3 separate regions of the Homo sapiens genome follow, and all the other regions are linked to region 1. Evidence: fine-mapped expression QTL. A gene starts in region 1. Each other region holds a variant in brackets. All regions are shown on one strand. Distances are between the middles of the regions. Region 1 holds the start of MSH6 (mutS homolog 6). Region 2 overlaps FBXO11 (F-box protein 11). Region 3 overlaps FBXO11 (F-box protein 11).

What was found.
Region 2: its variant is fine-mapped to the expression of MSH6 in neutrophils (CEDAR, PIP 0.95).
Region 3: its variant is fine-mapped to the expression of MSH6 in neutrophils (Naranbhai 2015, PIP 0.95).

Annotation. Positions count from the first base shown.
Region 1 is chr2:47,781,823-47,784,585 of GRCh38, forward strand. It overlaps MSH6 (mutS homolog 6), which reads left to right and starts at 1,323. Exons shown (of 10, transcript NM_000179.3): 1 at 1,323-1,671. The coding sequence starts at 1,412. RefSeq lists an enhancer at 696-765 and silencers at 896-1,375, 1,656-1,815, 2,016-2,105.
Region 2 is chr2:47,874,998-47,877,760 of GRCh38, forward strand. All of the region lies in intron 1 of FBXO11 (F-box protein 11), which reads right to left. Among named protein-coding and RNA genes, the nearest start is that of FBXO11, 30 kb to the right of the region's middle. The variant A/C (reference allele first, on the strand shown) is at 1,369.
Region 3 is chr2:47,896,186-47,898,948 of GRCh38, forward strand. The region is part of intron 1 of FBXO11 (F-box protein 11); the gene reads right to left. Among named protein-coding and RNA genes, the nearest start is that of FBXO11, 8.9 kb to the right of the region's middle. The variant C/CA (reference allele first, on the strand shown) is at 1,516.

The sequences.
Region 1 (2,763 bases):
TTTTATTACTTGCCTAGCAAAGGAGAACCTTCTGGCAGAACAGTCTCCAAGAACAAGGCAAACAACTAATTTTACATAGGTTTTTACCAATGTACAGCTGTTGATTGTGACTGGTTTCCGGCAATCTGGATTTCACAATCTGGATAAGGGGACAAACAATTGTCTGTCTTCCACTATCTTTCTTGAATTTGAATAGAACCTTTTTATTCTCATAGCCTCTTAGCTTTCTTTCTTTTTTTTTTGAGACGGAGTTTCGCTCTTGTCGCCCAGGCTGGAGTGCAGTGGCGCGACCTTGGCTCACTGCAAACGCTGCCTCCCAGGTTCAAGTTATTCTCCTGCCTCAGCCTCCCAAGTAGCTGGGATTACAGGCGCATGCCACCACGCCCGGCTAATTTTTGGATTTTTAGTAGAGACGGGGGTTTCACCATGTTGACTAGGCTGGTCTTCAACGCCTGACCTCAGGTGATCCGCCCGCCTCGGCATCCCAAAGTGCTGGGATTACAGGCGTGAGCCACTGCGCCCGGCCTCTCATAGTCTCTTAGCTTTCTAAAATTTGAAAAATCCTGTAAAGACACACCTGGGTCAAAGGGCTCAGATAACGGACTGTGGCCCTTAAGTACTTACGTCACAGGTTATTGAGAGGATCGATTTAGTTACCAGATGTAAAATGCTGGGATCAGTGCCTGGCAAAGGAAAACTTTGTACAGCTGCAGGCTTTCACCATACACAACAGCATCGCTAACGAATGCTATTACAATATTCATTTAGCGTTTACCAAGTGCCTACTCTATACAAATCTTGAGAATACAACGTGAAGGTGAACTGCTGACTAAAGTTTGGTCCCTTTCGCTCCGTCTCCTTGCGAAAATGCTCTAACGGCAGGAGGTCACGCGAGCGCTGGACGCGTTTCTCCCCGCGAGCCCCTTTCCGAGGCCTTTCGGGTCCCCCCGGTTATCCCCGCCCGGGCGGTGCGCGCCCCCGCTGTTCCCGCTTCCGCTCCAGAGAGGCAGGGCTTTCCGAGCCTGCTAGCCCCGCGGCCGCAACTAACCCCGGGTCGGAGTGTTCCGGCCCGGCCAGCCCCGCGGCGTGAGGGAAGGGGAGCTCAGCAGTTCCCCGCGCGGGGCCCAGGCGTCGGCGGCAGGGCGGGCCCCTCACCGCCAGCGTGCCAGCCCCGCCCCTACCCACCAGTGTGCCAGCCCCGCCCTTCCCCACGTCGCCGCGCGCCCGGGGGCGGGGCCTGGCGCGCACCGCCCGCGCACGGCGAGGCGCCTGTTGATTGGCCACTGGGGCCCGGGTTCCTCCGGCGGAGCGCGCCTCCCCCCAGATTTCCCGCCAGCAGGAGCCGCGCGGTAGATGCGGTGCTTTTAGGAGCTCCGTCCGACAGAACGGTTGGGCCTTGCCGGCTGTCGGTATGTCGCGACAGAGCACCCTGTACAGCTTCTTCCCCAAGTCTCCGGCGCTGAGTGATGCCAACAAGGCCTCGGCCAGGGCCTCACGCGAAGGCGGCCGTGCCGCCGCTGCCCCCGGGGCCTCTCCTTCCCCAGGCGGGGATGCGGCCTGGAGCGAGGCTGGGCCTGGGCCCAGGCCCTTGGCGCGCTCCGCGTCACCGCCCAAGGCGAAGAACCTCAACGGAGGGCTGCGGAGATCGGTAGCGCCTGCTGCCCCCACCAGGTAGCGGGGTGGGGGTGGGGTCGAAGGCGGGGGCATAGCGGCGGGGCGCTTGGAACCCGGCGAGGGGAGGCTCGCACAGGGGGTTGGGGGGGTGCACGGCCTGGCCCTGGGCTCGGAGGAGGCGGGGCCGCAGAGTTGGCTTGAATGAGTGCAGGGGTCGAGTCTGGAGCATTTGGGGGTGTAGCTTGTAAACAGGGTCGGAGGAGAGAGGCTGTGCAGGAAGAGGGCTGCAGGGGAGACGCGGAGAGTTCGGGCCTTTTGGAGGGAGGAGACGCGTCCCGCCAGGTGGGGGTGCTGGGCTAAGGAAGGGGCGACGCGCGCAGCTCCGGGTGGGGAGGGGGCCTGGGAGGTGGGAGCACTGGGGGTGGGGCGAGAAGGGGAAGGCGCCCGGCCCACTTGGTGGGCGGGGCGGGGGGCGGGGTGGCGGGAAGGAGGAATGCCTGCGGGAGGCCGAACGGGGAGAGTCCGGTGGTGTGGGGTGCGAAAGGAGGTTCCTCGGCCGGCGCGGAGATAGTGAGTTGGGGCTCCAGTAGTCGATCGAGGTAGACACTTAGAGGTAGTTAAGAGCCGCGGTCGCCGAGACGCCTTGGGGACGGTGGGCCTTCGGCCTAGGTGAGGGGCCGCCGAGGGGGTGGGCCACGAGCTGCGAGCGCGGGGGGGTGTGTCACCATGGGGACCGCGGGGCCTAATTGGGCGGGGCGGGGCCGTGGGGAGCCGAAGTGCTGGGATCCGGCTGGGTCCTTCGGTAGGTAGGCTGCACGTGCACCGAGACGAAGATAGAATATTTTGACGTATGTGGAAATTCGTGTCGAGTGGAAAATATTTTATTTTATGAAATAGTGTAATTTTTATGGGGCACCACTGGGCTTTTAGAGGCCTTAATCGGGCGCTGGACAAAGATGTGTGGACGTGAGTGACTCCGGGGAAGCCTGTCGGGAGTTGTCCTCACTTTATGGGCAGTTAAGTGCTTTTTTTTTTTTTTCCTTTTTGAGAGAGAGTTTCGCTCAAGTCCAGGCTGGAGTGCAATGGCGCGATCTCAGCTCACCGCAATCTCCGCGTCCCGGCTTCAAGCGATTCCCCAGCTTCAGCCTC
Region 2 (2,763 bases), 93 kb after region 1:
TAAGTCTGAGAAAATTCATACAGGATATGATCATCTCAAGAATCAAAGTCTGACTTCATTTATATGCTCAATTTCACTATCATTATTGGCGTATGGAACAGCAATATCTAATATAACTTTCCACAACGATGACAATGTTCCGTATCTGTGCAGTCCAACATGGCAGCCAGCCACCGTGAAGTAAGAGTAATTGTAAGTTGTATTCTTCTCCTACATAACCCCTTAAAAGTGTGATGAGGAATGGAATTTTAAATTTTATTAATTTTAATTATTTTAAATATACATAGTCACATGTGGCAAGTGGCTACCATATTGGACAACTTAGGTCTAGAGTGCTATTTATCTTCGCGTTTATCTTCTAATTCGTATGTCTCCTAAATTTTTTTATACGTTTTTGAAGTAGGATGTAGTATTTGAGCAATGCAGTGAGAAAACTGAAAAATGACTATTTATTACATCTTCCATCTTCCTTCTAGGAGATTCTGTCATTCTTTTTTTGTCTTTTTTTTTTTTAGCACAGTATAAATAATTGATAAGTAATGATAAAATTCCTAGAGTAGTAAAATATTTCAATATATAGGAAAAGCCAAGATTATTAAGATCTCATAATGGATGTTAGGTTTATAAAAAAGGGTCTAATGGACTCATATGGTAACTGTAAGATAGAATAATTTTTTAAAATAAATTTTCTCTTTGTTCTTTGGTAGATCTCTAAGAATACAAGTCATAATATCTACCCTTCTAAATAGTTGGCACTGCTCTAAAATGAAAATCAAAAATGAAAATTATTCCAACTGACCCTGATGGTATACCAAGGGTTTAGCCTTCTTCATTCTCTTATTTTCATTCCTTTAGTTCTGCTGGTCTGGAAGACATCTATTTTATTTCTATTCCTTTTGTGGTTACTCAGGTTAAAAAAGAAAAGCAGCAGCAGCAGCAAACATGTATAGAGTAGTACTAATCAGTGGCTTTATATGTATTTCACTTAATCCTCCCCACAACAACTATGAGAAGGTATTATTGTCATCCCCAATTATACATAAGGAAATTTACGCGTAAGAAGGTAAAATAACTCCTTAATGTCACACAGTTAGTAAGAAATAAGCTAGTCTTTCATTCAGGTAGTCTGGCTGCAGAGCCACAAAATAGCTATTTAGTTTTGGTAAAATACCCTGAAGTTGGTCAGTGTCTCTTTTTGTGCTACTTTTTGGGAACAAAGCAAGAATAGTAGCATTCCTGACTCAACTCTATTTTCCAACTTTCTTGTTATTGTCTAGAGTTTTGATTCTACTTTAAAAATTATGTATTTGCAATCAACTCAACTTGATTTATCAAATATTTTGCCAATTCTTTGTTTGCCACTGTATT[A/C]TTTTTTGCAATTCCTCCTTCTCCCTGGTTTACTATTCTTGCTGAAGTACAATCTTTGGTTCTCCCATCAAGCTTCTGTAAGTGAGGAGCTCTCTATTTTGTGTATTTCCTCACTTTGGGCCTCATTCTTGCTGACAGATAATAGTTTAAATGAGTATAGAATCAAGGTCAACAGTTATATTCCTTATACATTCGGAGGAAAGAAGATCCTTTTATCTTCTGGAAGACACTGTTCTGGTAAATACGTTGTTAATTTAACTAATATTTTAGTGTAGGGACTGTGGCATTTTTCATTTTGAAAAGCTTTTATGTTTTATGATCTGCAATTTCACTTTTGAGCATCTAGAAGATTTAAAAAATTTATCCTGGTAAGCAACTGTTCAGCAGTGCGCTATTTCAATATGAAAACTCAGTTCAATATGAAACCTTAAATTCTGGAAACCTTTTAATCATTATCTCACTGAATACTGTTTCTCTACTACTATGTCTAATCTCTCCTAAAATTTCTTTTGAATATTGAACTTAGGTTTGAATCTCTCGATCTATATTCATTTTTTTTTTTCCACTTCTCTCTTACTACATTCTGGGTGAATTCCTTAATACTATTTTCCAAATCACTGTTTCATTGACCATGTTCAGTCTAGTACACATCTAATGACATCTTACTTAATACAGGGTTTTTTTTTTTTGAGAGGGTCTTGCTCTGTTGCCCTGGCTGTAGTGCAATCATGGCTCACTGCAGCCTCAACCTCCTGGGCTTAAGCGATCCTCCCACCTCAGCCTCCTCAGTAGCATGGGACCACAGGTGTGCAGCACCACACCCAGCTAATTTTTCTATTTTTTGTAGAGATGAGGTTTTGCTATGTTGCCCACACTGGTAATTTTGGTTCTTTTATGGCAATTATTCCTTCCTTTACCTCCCTGAGGATCTTAAACATACACTTTAAAATTGTTCTATTATTTACACCTATAGACTAAGGATTCACTTGAATATCAATTATTCCCACTCCTGCAAAAAAGAAAACATACTATAAATACTGTTTCATGATTCCCATTTTTTCCCACTAAGCAACAAAACTTAGGAGATATTTCTGTATCAGTACACAGAAAACATTCTCTTTTCCCTCTGATGAAGGTGTTGACTTGGTTATTTTAGGTTTAGTTTTTCTTCTGTATTTTCGAATTTTTGTTTGGCAGGTTCATTGTAACTCTAAGTTGCATGGTGTGTGTGTATCTTTGTGTGCTTACCTTACCCTAACGATTTTTCATTTTCTCCATCTCTCACTCAAACCTCCCACCCCAGAATAAGGTTTTTCGTTTCGTTTTGTTTTGTTTTTGAGATGGAGTCTCGCTTTGTCGCCCAGGCTGGAATGCAGTGGTGCGATCTTGGCTCAC
Region 3 (2,763 bases), 110 kb after region 1:
TCAGAAAAAGATCAGGAAAAGAAATAAACACGTAATGTTAAGTGATTCTTGCAGGAATCCTTTACTCTCCCCCTCCCCCAATACTTTATTTGCCTCTGAAGAATCACTCCTACCCGAAAGATCTTTCTCCAAATTGTTTCTTTTCTTTTTTTTTTTTTTGAGACAAGGTCTTAAAACTCTGTCACCCAGGCTGGAGTGCAGTGGCTCAATCACAGTTCACTCTAGCCTTGACCTCCCTGGCTCAGATGATCCTCTCACCTCAACCTCCTGAGTAGCTGGGACTACAGGCATGGGCCACCACCCCACAGCTAACTTTGTATTTTCTGTAGAGACGGGGTTTCGCCATGTTGCCCAGGCAGGTCTCAAACTCCTGGGCTCAAGCGATCCACCCCACCCAGCCTCCCAAAAAGTGCTAGGATTACAGGCATGAGCCACTATGCCCCGCCCAATTGTTTAATTTCGCTTCCCTCTTTTACTTGGCCTAAAATACCAAAATTTGACAAGTTATCATAATCAGTCTCTTAAAAATGCAAATGTCTTTCAGAGAATTAATGAAGACATCAGTCATTCATATGTAAGTGTGAAGTAGTATAGTGGCTACTTTTATGTATTGCTGACCTTATATGAAATAAAGTGAGTGAGTCTATAATTTCCTTTACCATAAGAACACTTTGCTAAAAATACTAGCTTTCAAAATATAGTGCCTTACTCCAACTTCTATTTCTCTCAACAAATCTTCTTTGATATTTCTTCTTTACTATGATAGAAGTCTGGAAAGACTCCTACTTTTCATTTGTTAAATTTTATTCACTTCTAATTCCCTTTAAAGCTTGTTTTTTTCTTTTTTCAAAAAGTTATGACCAATTATGTGGGAAGAAACAATAACTAGTAACATACATACCAAAGTTGTCCATCTCAATATATAACAAGGGAATAAAAAATAGTTACATGCTCTTCCTCTTCCCCATCCCCTTTCCTACTAAGTGTTAGAATCTCATAAAGCCACATGTTCTTATATACAGTATGTTAATATACTATGAATGGAAGATAGAAAAATCAATGCTTGGATATAAAAAAGAATTATTGTATCTAAACCCAAGTAGAGTTGGCAAATCAGCAAAGGCTAAACTGATTCAAGTCAGTTGGTTACACTACAGTAACACAGACACCAATATCAAAGGTTAAACCCACACAGTGGCCAGTTAATTTCACACTAAAGAAAAACTTCTGGTCGGGTGAGGTGGCTCACGCCTGTAATCCCAGCATTTTGGGAGGCTTAGGCGGGCAGATCACTTTACATCATGAGTTTGAGATCAGCTTGGCCAACGTGGGGAAACCCCGTCTCTACTGAAAATACAAAAATCAGCCAGGCATGGTGGTGTGCACCTATAATCCCAGCTACTCAGGAGGCTGAGGCAGGAGAATCACTTGAACTCAGGAGGCAGAGGTTGCAGTGAGCCAAGATCACACCATTGCACTCCAGCCTGGGTGACAGAGTGAGACTGTGTCTTAAAC[C/CA]AAAAAAAAAAAAAAAAAAAAGGAAAAGAAAAAAGAAAAATTTCCAACAAAGATTTTGCCACAATTCAACTCAACCATCTGGAAAAGGAGTGTTGTTCACTAGGAAAAAAGAGTAAAAATGAGATTATCACTATTATCAGAAAAATAACTAAAAGTACATATTCTTACTCCATTTCTAGCCTTCAAATAATCTCTAAGTATGAGAAAATACAAAAGCTCTCTTCACACAAAAAAAAGGATGAATGACACCTCTTCTCTCATGAGATGTGAAAATATTCCTTAATGTTTTTTAAGGTTTAGTCACCACATGGAAGAAAACAATTTTCTCCCCTTTTTGAACATAGCCCCATGATCTTCATTTGTTAAAAAGAACAAAACATTTAACAACGGGGTTTTTAGAAACTGGGAGAGCAAGCAATTAACATACTGAACTCACACTTGCTTTAACATGCTATCTTATTCGGGGTGTTTAAAAAACGTTTTAAATGCAATTAATGCATTCATTTTCAAAGGAAAATAAACATTTTTGATATTTGCCTTCAACTGAAATAAATCATGTAAAGGAAGTTAGTTGGTTTCATTTCTCTATTTTCTAAGGATTAAGTTTAAGCACATTTTTTATGCTAACCAAACATATATAAAAACTCCAAGCTACACATATAAGAAACACACCAAACCATGGTGAGAAAAGAATATTTAGTCCACAAACCAGTCAAAATTACCACTGAAATCTAAAACTAATTTAACGCACATTTTTCTCCTTCTGAAATAGTCCAGCCTACAACCATGAGCTAAAATCAGTTAATACCCTTTATTCATAACTTATGAGTAATTCAGGGGAAATCTACCCTTCTTTGTATAATGAGTGCTTAATGATCTCATCAACACACTGGAAAAACATGCTGGTCAATCAGTAGAGTCTCATCTTGAGACAAATCTACATGAGAGGTAAAATTATAATCAGAAGATTACTTGAAAAATGTGAAACCAGATAAGTCAACAATCAATAGCATCAGACTAGTGCAGCCATCTCCAATAGGACAGATGGTATAGAACAGGGGACAGATCTGCTTCAAGGGGCAGGTTATTGCATCCCCTGAAAGTTATACAAACATTCTGCCAAATGTATTTTGGTATCTTTCCTTGTTTATAGAAAGATTAGGTGATATAAATCAATTTTGAAATTTTTTTGCTACTTACTATGCATCTTCATTGTTGTATAGCTGAGCCTCTACTTCTTCATTTATT